Linked DNA regions of Homo sapiens: region 1 is linked to region 2. The links come from fine-mapping of genetic effects on gene expression. A gene starts in region 2. The other region holds a variant in brackets. All regions are shown on one strand. Distances are between the middles of the regions. Region 1 has its middle 32 kb from the start of CNTROB. Region 2 holds the start of KCNAB3 (potassium voltage-gated channel subfamily A regulatory beta subunit 3).

Region 1 (5,485 bases), 34 kb after region 2:
CTGGAGGAGTTTCACGGCTGTGAAGAAGATGAAGAAGACCACAAACAAACATGATGAAGAACCATCTTGTCTCCTGGTTTGTTCTCCTAAAAATACATTTGTCTTTCCTAAATAAACCCATTTGTTCTTCCAGTAGAAGCCTTTTCCTCCCTGCTCCTTTACCCTTATTAAGGTAGGCTTGTAAATCCCTGTCTTTAGTTATGGATAAAGTCATTTTCTTTGTGGGTTCCTAGTATGTGAATAAACTTTATCTTTTCTTTTGTTAATCTGTCTTTTGTCAGTTTAATTCACAGCCCCCCAAGAACAGCATCTAAGAGGGTGGAGAAGACATTTTTCCTCCCTGACGCAAGCAATCACTTCAGAGTCTTCTTGATATTTTAGGTAGAATTTAGGTACTCTAGTTCCCGCAGGGGGATTCCAGTCTCAGACAACCCACCGCAGTAGGACCGCTTCAATCATACTTCATAATGATTTTCTCAGTATGAGCTTGTTGGCTTAGAGCTGCGGAAGAGAAGTCACAAAGAAAGCCTAAGGTTTCAGAGAGCACTGAGGTAAGCTCAACCCAGGTCTCAATTCAATTTCTAGAAGAGGAGGACACTAGTGGAAATCATTTCCATGTATATCCTGTATTTCCAGGGCCGAAACCAATACAGTAGTATGTCTGCTTCTTACAGTTTTTTTTCCCTATGCTTATACACTTTTATTTTCTACATTTTTGGACTCACACTTACGTATACTATTTTGCACCTTTAGCTTATACTATTTATTAAATATATATTTATATTGTGAAGATGAACATTTTTCAGGACATTAAGCATTTTCTTTTCTTTTCTTTTCTTTCTGAGACAGTCTCACTCTGTCGCCCAGGCTGGAGTGCAATGGCATGATCTTGGCTCACTGCAACCTCCGTCTCCCAGGCTCAAGCAATTCTCCTGCCTCAGCCTCCCGAGTAGCTGGGACTACAGGCATGTGCCACCATGCATGGCTAATTTTTGTGTATTTTTAGTAGAGACAGGGTTTCACCATGTTGGCCAGGCTGGTCTTGAACTCCTGACCTCAGGTAATCCACCTACCTCAGTCTCCCAAGAGCTGGGATTATGGGTGTGAGCCACTACGCAGGGACTGCCTGCCTGCCTTCCTTCCTTCCAAGGCAGGAGGATCACCTGAGGTCAGGAGTTTGAGATCAACCTGGCCAACATGGTGAAACTCTGTCTCTACTAAAAATGCAAAAATTAGCTGGGTGTGGCAGTGGGCGCCTATAATCCCAACTACTCGGGAGGCTGAGGCAGGAGAGTCGCTTGAACCCAGGAGGTGAAGGTTGCAGTGAGTCAAGATCGCGCCACTGCACTCCAGCCTGGGCCACAAGAGTGAAACTCCATCTCAAAAAAACAAAATAGACATTTGAGTTCTAAAAAACAGGCATTCTAGTTTGAAGATACTCCAACTAAAACTTCAATGAACATTCTTGTGCAGTTTTTTTTGTTTGTTTTCTTTAATATAGGGTCTCGTTGTGTCACCCAGGCCGGAGTGCAGTGGTGTGATCATGGCTCACTGTTGCTTCAACCTCCCCGGCTCAAGCGCTCCTTTCCTCAGCCCCATAAGTAGCTGGGACTACAGGTGCACACCACCATGCCCAGCTAGTTTTTGTATTTTTTTGTAGAGATGGGGTTTCGCCATGTTGCCTAGGCTAGCCTTACACTCCTGAGCTCAGGAGATCCTTCTGCCTCAGCCTCCCGAAGTGCTGGGATTACAGGCGTGAGCCACTGTGTCTGGCCTTCTTGTATAGGTTTTTTGATGGACATGTGCTCTTGTTTCTGTTGAGTATTTATCTAGGAGTGAAATTGCTGGTGGCTCTAGATTTAGCTTTGGTTTTCTAAAGTGGTTGAACCAATTTATACACCTCCCAGTAATGCATGAGGGTTCCAGTTACTCCCCGTTCCCACCAACATTCAGTATGGTTGTTGCTTCCCATCTTAGCCATTCTGGTGGCTGTGCAGTGATATCGCACTGAGGTTTCAATTTGAATATGCATATTTTATTATGAAAGTAATATATTTTTATATATGTAGAAAATTTAGGCCGGGAGTGGTAGCTCACGCCTGTAATCCCAGCACTTTGGGAGGCCAAGGTGGGTGGATCACCTGAGGTCAGGAGTTCGAGACCAGCCTGACCAACATGGAGAAACCCCGTCTCTACTAAAAATACAAAATTAGCCAGGCGTGGTGGCAGGTGCCTGTAATCCCAGCTACTCAGGAGGCTGAGGCAGGAGAATTGCTTGAACCTGGGAGGTGGAGGTTGCGGTGAGCCAAGATCGTGCCATTGCACTCTAGCCTGGACAACAAGAGTGAAACTCTGCCTCAAAAAAAAAAAAAAAGAAATGAAAAAGAAAAGAAAACTTAAAAAGTGCAGGAAAGAATAAACTAAATATCATTTGTACCCTATCATCCTCTCCCCTCCACCAAGCTCCATTGGATTGAAGTATTTATGTACAATGTTAAGGTTGTACTGATTTATACTTCCAGCATCCATGTATCCCTTTTTTATCCTGAACTGGGATTATTTTAAAAGTTGTCAATTTTGGTATCTCCTTATGGTTTTATTTATTATTTCTTTTATTTCTATTGAAATTGGACTTTAAAAAATTTTCAGGTGGTAGTGTGCACCTGAAGTCCTAGCTACTGGGGAGGCTGAGGCAGGAGAATTGCTTGAGCCCAGGAGTTCAAGGCTGCAGTGAGCTATGATTGCACCACAGCACTCTAGCCTGGGTGACAGAGCAATGTATATCAAATGTATTACATATTTTTTATTTATTATATTATATACATATACATTTTTATTGTTGTTGTTGTTTTCTTGAGACAGAGTTTCACTCTTGTTACCCAAGCTGGAGTGCAATGGTGAGATCTGTGCTCACTGCAACCTCTGCCTCCTGGGTTCAAGTGATTCTCCTGTCTCGGCCTCCCGAGTAGCTGGGATTACAGGCACGTGCCACCACGCCTGGATAATTTTTTGTATTTTTTTAGTAGAGTTGGGGTTTCACCATGTTGGCCAGGCTGGTCTTGAACTCCTGACCTCGTGATTTGCCTTGCCCTCCCAAAGTGCTGGGATTACAGGTGTGAGTCACCGTGCCCAGCA[T/TTA]TATATATATATATATTTTAAAAGGCTGGGCGTGGTAGCTCACACCTGTAATCACAGCATTTTGGGAGGCTGAGGCAGGCTTGCTTGAGGCCAGGAGTTTGAGACCAGCCTGGGCAATGTAGTGAGTTTAAAAAAAATTTTTTTTAATTTTATTGCTCTTTATATTGTAGTGTATTTTATTTTATTTTATTTATTTTGAGATGGAGTCTCGCTCTGTCACCCAGGCTGGAGTGCAATGGCGTGATCTTGGCTCACTGCAACCACTGCCTCCCACGTTCAAGTAATTCTCCTGTCTCAGCCTTCTGAGTAGCTGGGATTACAGGCACGCACCACCATGCCGGGTTAATTTTTGTATTTTTAGTAGAGACGGGATTTCACTACGTTGGTCAGGCTGGTCTCGAACTCCTGACCTCATGATCTGCCCGCCTCGGCCTCCCAAAGTGCTGGGATTACAGGCGTGAGCCACCACACCTGGCCTATATTACCTTTTAAATAAATTGTCTCATTTCCTTTGATGAAACAGATTTTTATCATCACACCTAATGAAACAGCATAAAAAATAGTTTACATGGTAATCTCATAAATTAGTAGATATGCAAACATTCTAAATAAAATTTTAGCAATCAGAATATAGTATAAATTTTAATAAAGTATAATTTTTAAAGGAATTTTAAAGGTGTGGTAGCTCACACCTGTAATCCCAAAAGTGTGAGAGGCTGAGGCGCAAGAATCGATTGAGCTCTGGAGTTCCATACCTGGGCAACATAGCAGACCTCATCTGTACTAAAAATAGTCCCAGCTACTCTGGAAACTGAGGCGGGAGGATTGCTTGAGCTCGGGAGATTGAGATCAGTGCTATCATCATGCCACTGCAGTCCACCCTGGGTGACAGAGTAAGACCCTGTCTCAAAAAAGAAGAAAAAAAGAACATGTACTTTTTAACCAATTCTGTTTTTGAACTTATTTCAAATGGTCTTTCATTTTTGTTTTTCTGTCACTTATAAACATCCCCCACTAAAGCTCAATTTTCCACATAACCAATAATATTATTGGAAAAAATTCATATAATTATTTCCACAAATGCCAGAGGGAATTCTTCATGGAAACTCTCCCTAAAAGCAATAAAAGGTTGCCTCTTTAACATGACAAAAAGGCTCTATTGAAAACCAAAAGTCAAAATTACACTTAATGGAGAACATGAATTATTCCTCTTTAAAATAGGAACAAGACAAGGATATCTTATTACTACTATTCAACGTAGCTCTAAAAATTCTGACAAAGCTATTTGAGAAGAGAAAGAAAGATATACATAAAGAAAAGGAAGAAATAAAATGATCATGTTATGCAAATGAAATGAAAAGCACCTCAAAATTACTAGAGATAATAAATGAAGGCATCAAAGAAACAAGATATAATACAAATTAATTTAGGACAATTTTCCTCTTGATAATAGTGCATTTCTCATTTTTGTTCTTTCTTTCCATGCATCCCTTTCTGTTTTTATTCTTAAAGCTTCATGATTTTACAATTTATAAGTCCTGAACATTTTGTGTTAATCTTTTCTCAGATATTTTAAAGATTTTTTAATCGCTTTTATAAATGGAATTTTTTTTGACATTACATGTACTTTATTTTTCTTAAGTGTTTAAAATAAGGCATTTCGGCCAGGCACGGTCGCTCACGCCTGTAATCCTAGCACTTTGGGAGGCTGAGGCCTCCTCAGGTGGATCACCTGACGTCAGGAGTTCGAGATGAGCCTGGCCAACATGGTGAAGCCCTGTCTCCACTAAAAATACAAAAATTAGCTGGGCATGGTGGCATACACCTGTAATCCCAGCTACTTGGGAGGCTGAGGCAGGAAAATCGCTTGAACCCAGGAGGCGGAGGTAGCAATGATCCGAGATCGTGCCACGGAACTCCAGCTTGAGCAACAGAGACAGACTCTGCCTCAAAAAGAAAAAAAAAAAGGCATTTCTTTTGTAATCTAATTATAACATTTGCAGTTATTTGGAATTGTCTTTCATTTCTGTTTTTCTGTCACTTATAAACATCAGTCATTCACAATGACTAATGATAGAGGTACATCACGTAAGTATAGATGTAAAGTATTGTTTAAGAAAGCTTAGGTATTTATTTTTCGGGCTTTCATGTTGTTATGCTGTTCCTACTCTTCTTCTTCTTCTGTTTTTGTTTTGTTTTGTTTTGTTTTTTTGAGAAAGAGTCTTGCTCTGTTGTCCAGACTGGAGTGCAGTGGTGCAATCTTGGCTCACTGCAACCTCCGCCTCCCATGTTCAAGCGATTCTCCTGCCTCAGCCTCCTGAGTAGCTGGGATTACAGGCATGCGCCACCA
Region 2 (5,249 bases):
TCTGCTGTCTAGGGAGGTGAAAGAGGTAAAGATCAACTACTGCTCCTCAGTTACCTCCCTCACTGTACTCTAACCCATCACATCTCAGCCCTGGGTTCTCTAGTCTCTCCCCTCTCCCCATCCTCCAGCCTCAGATCCCTCATTCCCTGTGCTTGTTGTCCAAACCCCTATCCAGGTTCACTTCCCTTTTTTCAAGTTCCCTCACCCCCACCACCCTGATTCTAGGTCCGATAACTTATACCTCATCTGAGATCTGAGAACCAAATGTGACCCAGGTACCTGCAAGAGAGAAGCCAGGCACATGAGAACTGCAGGGGGCAGACCATGAAAGAATGCCCTCCTTTCCTTAATCCCTATTCTGACTCACCTAGGCCAAGACAGGATACCCGAAGACCAGACTTCCCTAGGTTCCTGCAAGATACAGAAGCAGCGGGAAGGGGTGGAGCCTCCATTATGGACTTAGATTATCAGCCCCCAGCTCCTCTCCTTCCAGACTGAGAAGCCCTCAGGTGTCTCAGTCCAAAGAAATTAGACCCAGTGGGCCTATAAGATTGGGCAAGTGCTATCTCCAGAGCAGAGGTCCTAGGAATTTTCTCAAAAGGACAAGTGAACCATATGTGACTGTTCCTCTGGAGCCACTGTCCAGAGTCTCCATTCCCTCTTATCACATTGAAGACGTGCAGTCTGGTTTGTCCTTCTTCTGGGGTCTTGTCTGTGTTTGAGTCATCTGTGGGTTGTGTGCAGTGAGGGGCTGGGAGGAATTTTGTTTGATTGTGGTGAGTTTGTGAGACCAGGCCCTCAGGCAGAGTGCTGTGCCAAATGGTAGATGGCAGGTTGGAAGAGGTAAACCAAGTCAAGTTCAGGCATTCAGACAGACAGGGGTCCCTGGCTAGGCTAGGCAGATGGGCCTGGAGGAAAGGCAGATTGAGGACCTGGGGGGAGGGGGGAGAGTAAGACAGAAAAGCCTAGTTCTCCCTCTCCACTCCCTCTGTTCCTATTGACTTGTGAAGACTGTCTCTGAACCAGTGAGCCCCCTCATCCTCCCAAAGCCCCCAACCCAGGTGTCAGCTCAGCTTTCCAATCAGGGCCACCATATAGAGGGGATCAGATTCCTCAGGTGACAAAGCAGGTCAGATCAGTGACCTCAGCTCACTCCCAAGCAGGAGCCCCTCCTCTACCCCCTACTTCAGGTTCTGAGCTTCTGGTCTGGCAGTCCTCTGAGATAAAGTCAGTTACATTTCAGTCTACCCAGACCCTGTCCCTCAGCATGGAGATGAAAAATGTGGTCCATCCTTCCCACCGGCCCCACTCCCCTTGCACCCAAGAAAGGTCGCAGAAGACCTAGCCTTTGGGGCAGGCAGGGGCAGTATCTGGGTCAGGCACCCCGAGCAGGCCAGAGTGAGAAGCTGATTCCCTCCCTCCACTCCCCAGGACACGGACCCAAGGACACTCCACTGGAGGAGGCATAGCCTGGAGATCCGTGTAGCGTGGAGATCCATGCATCCCTGACCTTCCCAGGGGTAAGGAGGGAAGCTCAGGGGCATCCCCTGGGTCTGACAGGACCCAGTCAACCTTGGTAAACTTGATTCTCGTAGTCAGGGGTATCGACAGAAACCAAGAGAGGGACAAAGTGAGGGAGTGCCAGAGACAGAAAGAAGAGATGGAAAGAAGGGAGACCTACTTAGTGAAGTTTGAAGGGGTCTTGGCGGCCATCTCAAGCAGTCTCAGGGGTCCCGAAAGGAAAGCGGAAGGGGTGGGCTGCCCGGCCACCCCCATACCTGTATTTCATGCCAGTGCCTCGGCCGGTGCTCTCTCGGAGGGCCCCAGCGGGCGCTGGGGGTCGGGGAACCAGTGCAGCTCGGGCCTTGGGGCCAGACCCTCCACCCCCCGGAGGATTCCCGTGCCCCCCGCCGGCCGGCCCACCATTACCGCCCCCGGGGCCCGGCCGGGGTCCACACAGACGGTCCTCACTGCTCCGGCTGCGAAGGTTCTGCTCGGTACACGCGATAGACACCTGCATGCTGGCTGGCCGAGGCGGGGGAGGGGGCTCCGAGGGGACGGGAGGGGGGAGCAGGGAAGCCCGAGGGCTGACGACCGGGGGCGTAGTGGGGCGAACCCCGGCAGAGCGGGAAGGCTGAGGAGGCTGCGGCGGGAGCCGCCAGGCAGGATCGGGCCCGCGGGGGCGGGCTGCTGGAGGTCGCGAGGTTTGCGGCGGGAGGGAAGAAACGTGGGGGGCGCCAGGAGTGGAGATATTCAGTTACGGGGGACACAGGAGCAAGGATTAGGAGGGGGAAATGGATGAGGGTAAAGGTCGAGGATGAGGTAAAGGTCTCGGAGGATAAGGACCCAGGGGGAAGCGGGGCGGGAGAGAGATGCCACTTCAGCGCGAACCGCTGCGGGACCCGCTGGGCTCCCAGCCGCGTCGGCAGCGGGCCCAGCTCATCAGCATGCAGGCACCGCCTCCTCATCTGCATAGAGCCGCCCTCCTCTCAGCCAAACCTGCCGCTCATCTGCATAAGCCCCGCCTGCTGAAGGCTCTGCAGCTTGAATATTTTCTGAGCGGAATTGGGGAGGATGGCTCCTGCACCCTCTGGGACCCAAGGGCTGTCAGGCTTCCCCCGGCCCAGTGATTCTCAATCGGGAGGGAATGTATCTCCCAGCGTACTTTCGGCAAGGTTTGGAGATATTTTTGATTTCATGCCTGTGCTATCAGCATCTAGTGGGTGGTGGCCAGGGATGCTAAAATCCTACAAAGCACAGGACGGTCCCCACAATAAAGAATTATCCAGCTCAAAGCATCAATATTCCCACGGTTGAGAAACCCATCCGCAAAGCCACTTCGTGGCCCTCCAGGGGGTGTGGCTGCCCTACTTTCCACCTTCATGCGTGGGGCAGGACTGAGAGGGCCCTCAAACCAACACGCTCAGGCCGCAGAGAGTGACAAAAAGTTTATTCTGTGCTTCTCGCAGCATTAGGCAGGGGATAAAACTGGAGAGAGGGCCTGGTGTGGAGGTGGAGGGACTCTGTGGGCTTCACTCTGGTAGGAGGAGAGCATCAGGGCAGGCCTTTAGGCTGTTGCTCTGGGCAGGGGGTGGGGGTGCGGGGGCTTACAGTGGGGGCCCTTAGTTGGCACAGGTTCGGAAGGGCCCCAGGCAGACATGAATTCTCCTGAGACTTGAGGTAGGTTGCTTCAGCCAGCCCGGGCGGAGAAGAAGGGCAGAGAGCGAACATAGGAGTCCAGTCGGGAGCGAAAGAGCTCACTTTGCACAGTTTGGCCCAGCGGGCACAGGGGATTCTTCACCACCAGCTCCACATACAGCTATGGAAAGGGAAGATGTTAGAGCCAGGCTTTGGATACTTCTGGTTTTTAGCCCCAAACCTTGTATAACCTCAGGGGTGTGTGAATGCACAAGGAATAAGGGCTGGAAGGCAAGCCCTCTCTGAGGAGAAAGTGGTGGTGGGAGTTAAGAACCTAAGGGCCCCTGAGAAAACTCTTGAGTTGAGCAAACATATAGTAGGATTGGGGCAGGGGAGATGAGGGAGTCTTGGGGTTCTGAAGAGCTCTGGGGGATGGGTCCCTGGGGCTGGCACTGACCGCACTGTAGATGTGGTGCAGCACATCTCGGATGGGTCCCACGCCCAAGTCAGTATTCATGACAACTTTGATCCCAGTGGGCGTCTCGTAGTAATGGAGTTTGTAACGGCTAGTTTGGAAGGCCAGGAAGCCATCCTTCCTGCAGAGATGAGGAGGGTGTTAAAGAATGGGAGCAGAATCTCTCCCAAAGAGACACTTCTGATCCCCGCAAACATCGACTCCCTCTTTATCTAAACATATCCTTTGTAGAAGCCTGGTTGAGTAAAGACATCGCCCATCGTCACCCCTCAATTTAGCCCCCACCAACTTCTCTACTTTCAGACCCTCCCCACCCCCACTCCTGCCAGCTCCAGCACTCTCGCTCCGGACTCAGCCTCTCTTAAGTACCCTTTCCCCCCTCTGGAGGCCAATGCTCCTTCCACTTCAGAAAGTTTCCCCCATCCCCAAATTCCCAAGGCTAGCCCTCCTCCCAACATCTTCTCTGACTCCGCGTACATGTCTAGCGGGGACATCTTGCTGACAAACGAGCGGATAGAGAAGAGCATCCCGTACATCAGCTTATACTCCTGGAGGGAGAGGGGCAGAGTTAGCTCTCGGTTGATGCGGGAGATGGGGTGGGGGGTGGGAACGAGCTGGGGTTTGGAGAGGAGGGGCTGGGTTGGGACTATAGGTGTTTGGAGATGAGAGGTCGCCCGGGCTGCACCGGGGCCCTCTCGTCACCTCCTCCTTGGGAATCCCTGCTTGCTTCTTGCGGTGCCATTCGCTGTAGTGCAGACACACTCCATTCCGGTCAAACAGGTACAGGTTGTGGACAGTCATCTGCAGGGCAGGGAGTGTGAGCCTCGCTCCGGGGCCGCCCCCACTCCTTGGGCTCGGGTTCCCGGACCCACAGCCTTCCAACCAGGTGGGGACCCCACCCACGGACTCACCGGAACTGCTCCGAGTGCCCGTCAAGAGTTACTTCCGGTTTCCACGGAGCTCCGCCCCTTAGGGGGGTTCTCGCTCGGCCGCGGCTGGGCATTAACTCCGCTCCAGTGCTGCTTGTCAGACTCCGCCTCCCTCCCTCAGCCAATCTGTGGCCACCGGAGCCGCGCACGCGCGGCCAGGCGCTCGGGATACAGAAGTGATGTGAGTGTCTGCGAGCGTGGTCTCGCGGGCGGGTGACGTCATCGAGGCGAGAGAGGCGGAGCCGTGGACAGTGGGCGGGAGGCTGCCAACGGTTTTGAGCGTAGGGGGAGGCGTGAGAGGGGGATCTCAGGGGAGGAGGTCAATCGCTTGCCCCCCACTTTGGCAAATTGGGGACTGAGGACTGGAAGGGTGGAGAGTAGGCGGAACCAGGTGGTCGTCGGGGCAGAGGATCTCGGGCTAGGCTTGAGGGCGGCGTGCTTCTTAGGGACGACTTAGGGCGTGACTGAGGGTTCACAAGGTTTCTTTTGGGGTGGTCGGGAGGGAGAGATTCTAGGGAACAAGGAAGCTCGCTATGGCTTTCTTGCCAGGAGGGGTCGAAGGGAAAGTACAAGGGAGCTGGAGCTGACCCTGGGTAGAACGGGTGAAGGGATGGGGGAGCGTGAGGTTCCGCCCTCTCTTGAGACTGGAACCAATTGAGGGACTAGTAGGGCAGGGGGACAGAAATTGGGCTCCTAGTGGATTTGGG

The links. PIP is the estimated chance that this variant, and not a neighbour inherited with it, causes the effect.
Region 1: its variant is the best candidate, but not a certain one, in a credible set for the expression of KCNAB3 in subcutaneous fat (FUSION, PIP 0.56).

Annotation. Positions count from the first base shown.
Region 1 is chr17:7,961,651-7,967,135 of GRCh38, forward strand. No RefSeq gene overlaps it. Among named protein-coding and RNA genes, the nearest start is that of CNTROB, 32 kb to the left of the region's middle. The variant T/TTA (reference allele first, on the strand shown) is at 3,136.
Region 2 is chr17:7,927,416-7,932,664 of GRCh38, forward strand. It overlaps KCNAB3 (potassium voltage-gated channel subfamily A regulatory beta subunit 3), which reads right to left and starts at 2,441. Exons shown (of 14, transcript NM_004732.4): 1 at 1,779-2,441; 2 at 368-411; 3 at 242-279; 4 at 1-8. The coding sequence starts at 2,020. TRAPPC1 (trafficking protein particle complex subunit 1) reads right to left here and starts at 4,531. Exons shown (of 4, transcript NM_021210.5): 1 at 4,316-4,531; 2 at 4,091-4,161; 3 at 3,596-3,734; 4 at 2,934-3,319. The coding sequence starts at 4,414. The coding sequence ends at 3,191. It overlaps CNTROB (centrobin, centriole duplication and spindle assembly protein), which reads left to right and starts at 4,791. Exons shown (of 19, transcript NM_053051.5): 1 at 4,791-5,249. RefSeq lists enhancers at 4,245-4,484, 4,825-4,874, 5,095-5,154, 5,185-5,249.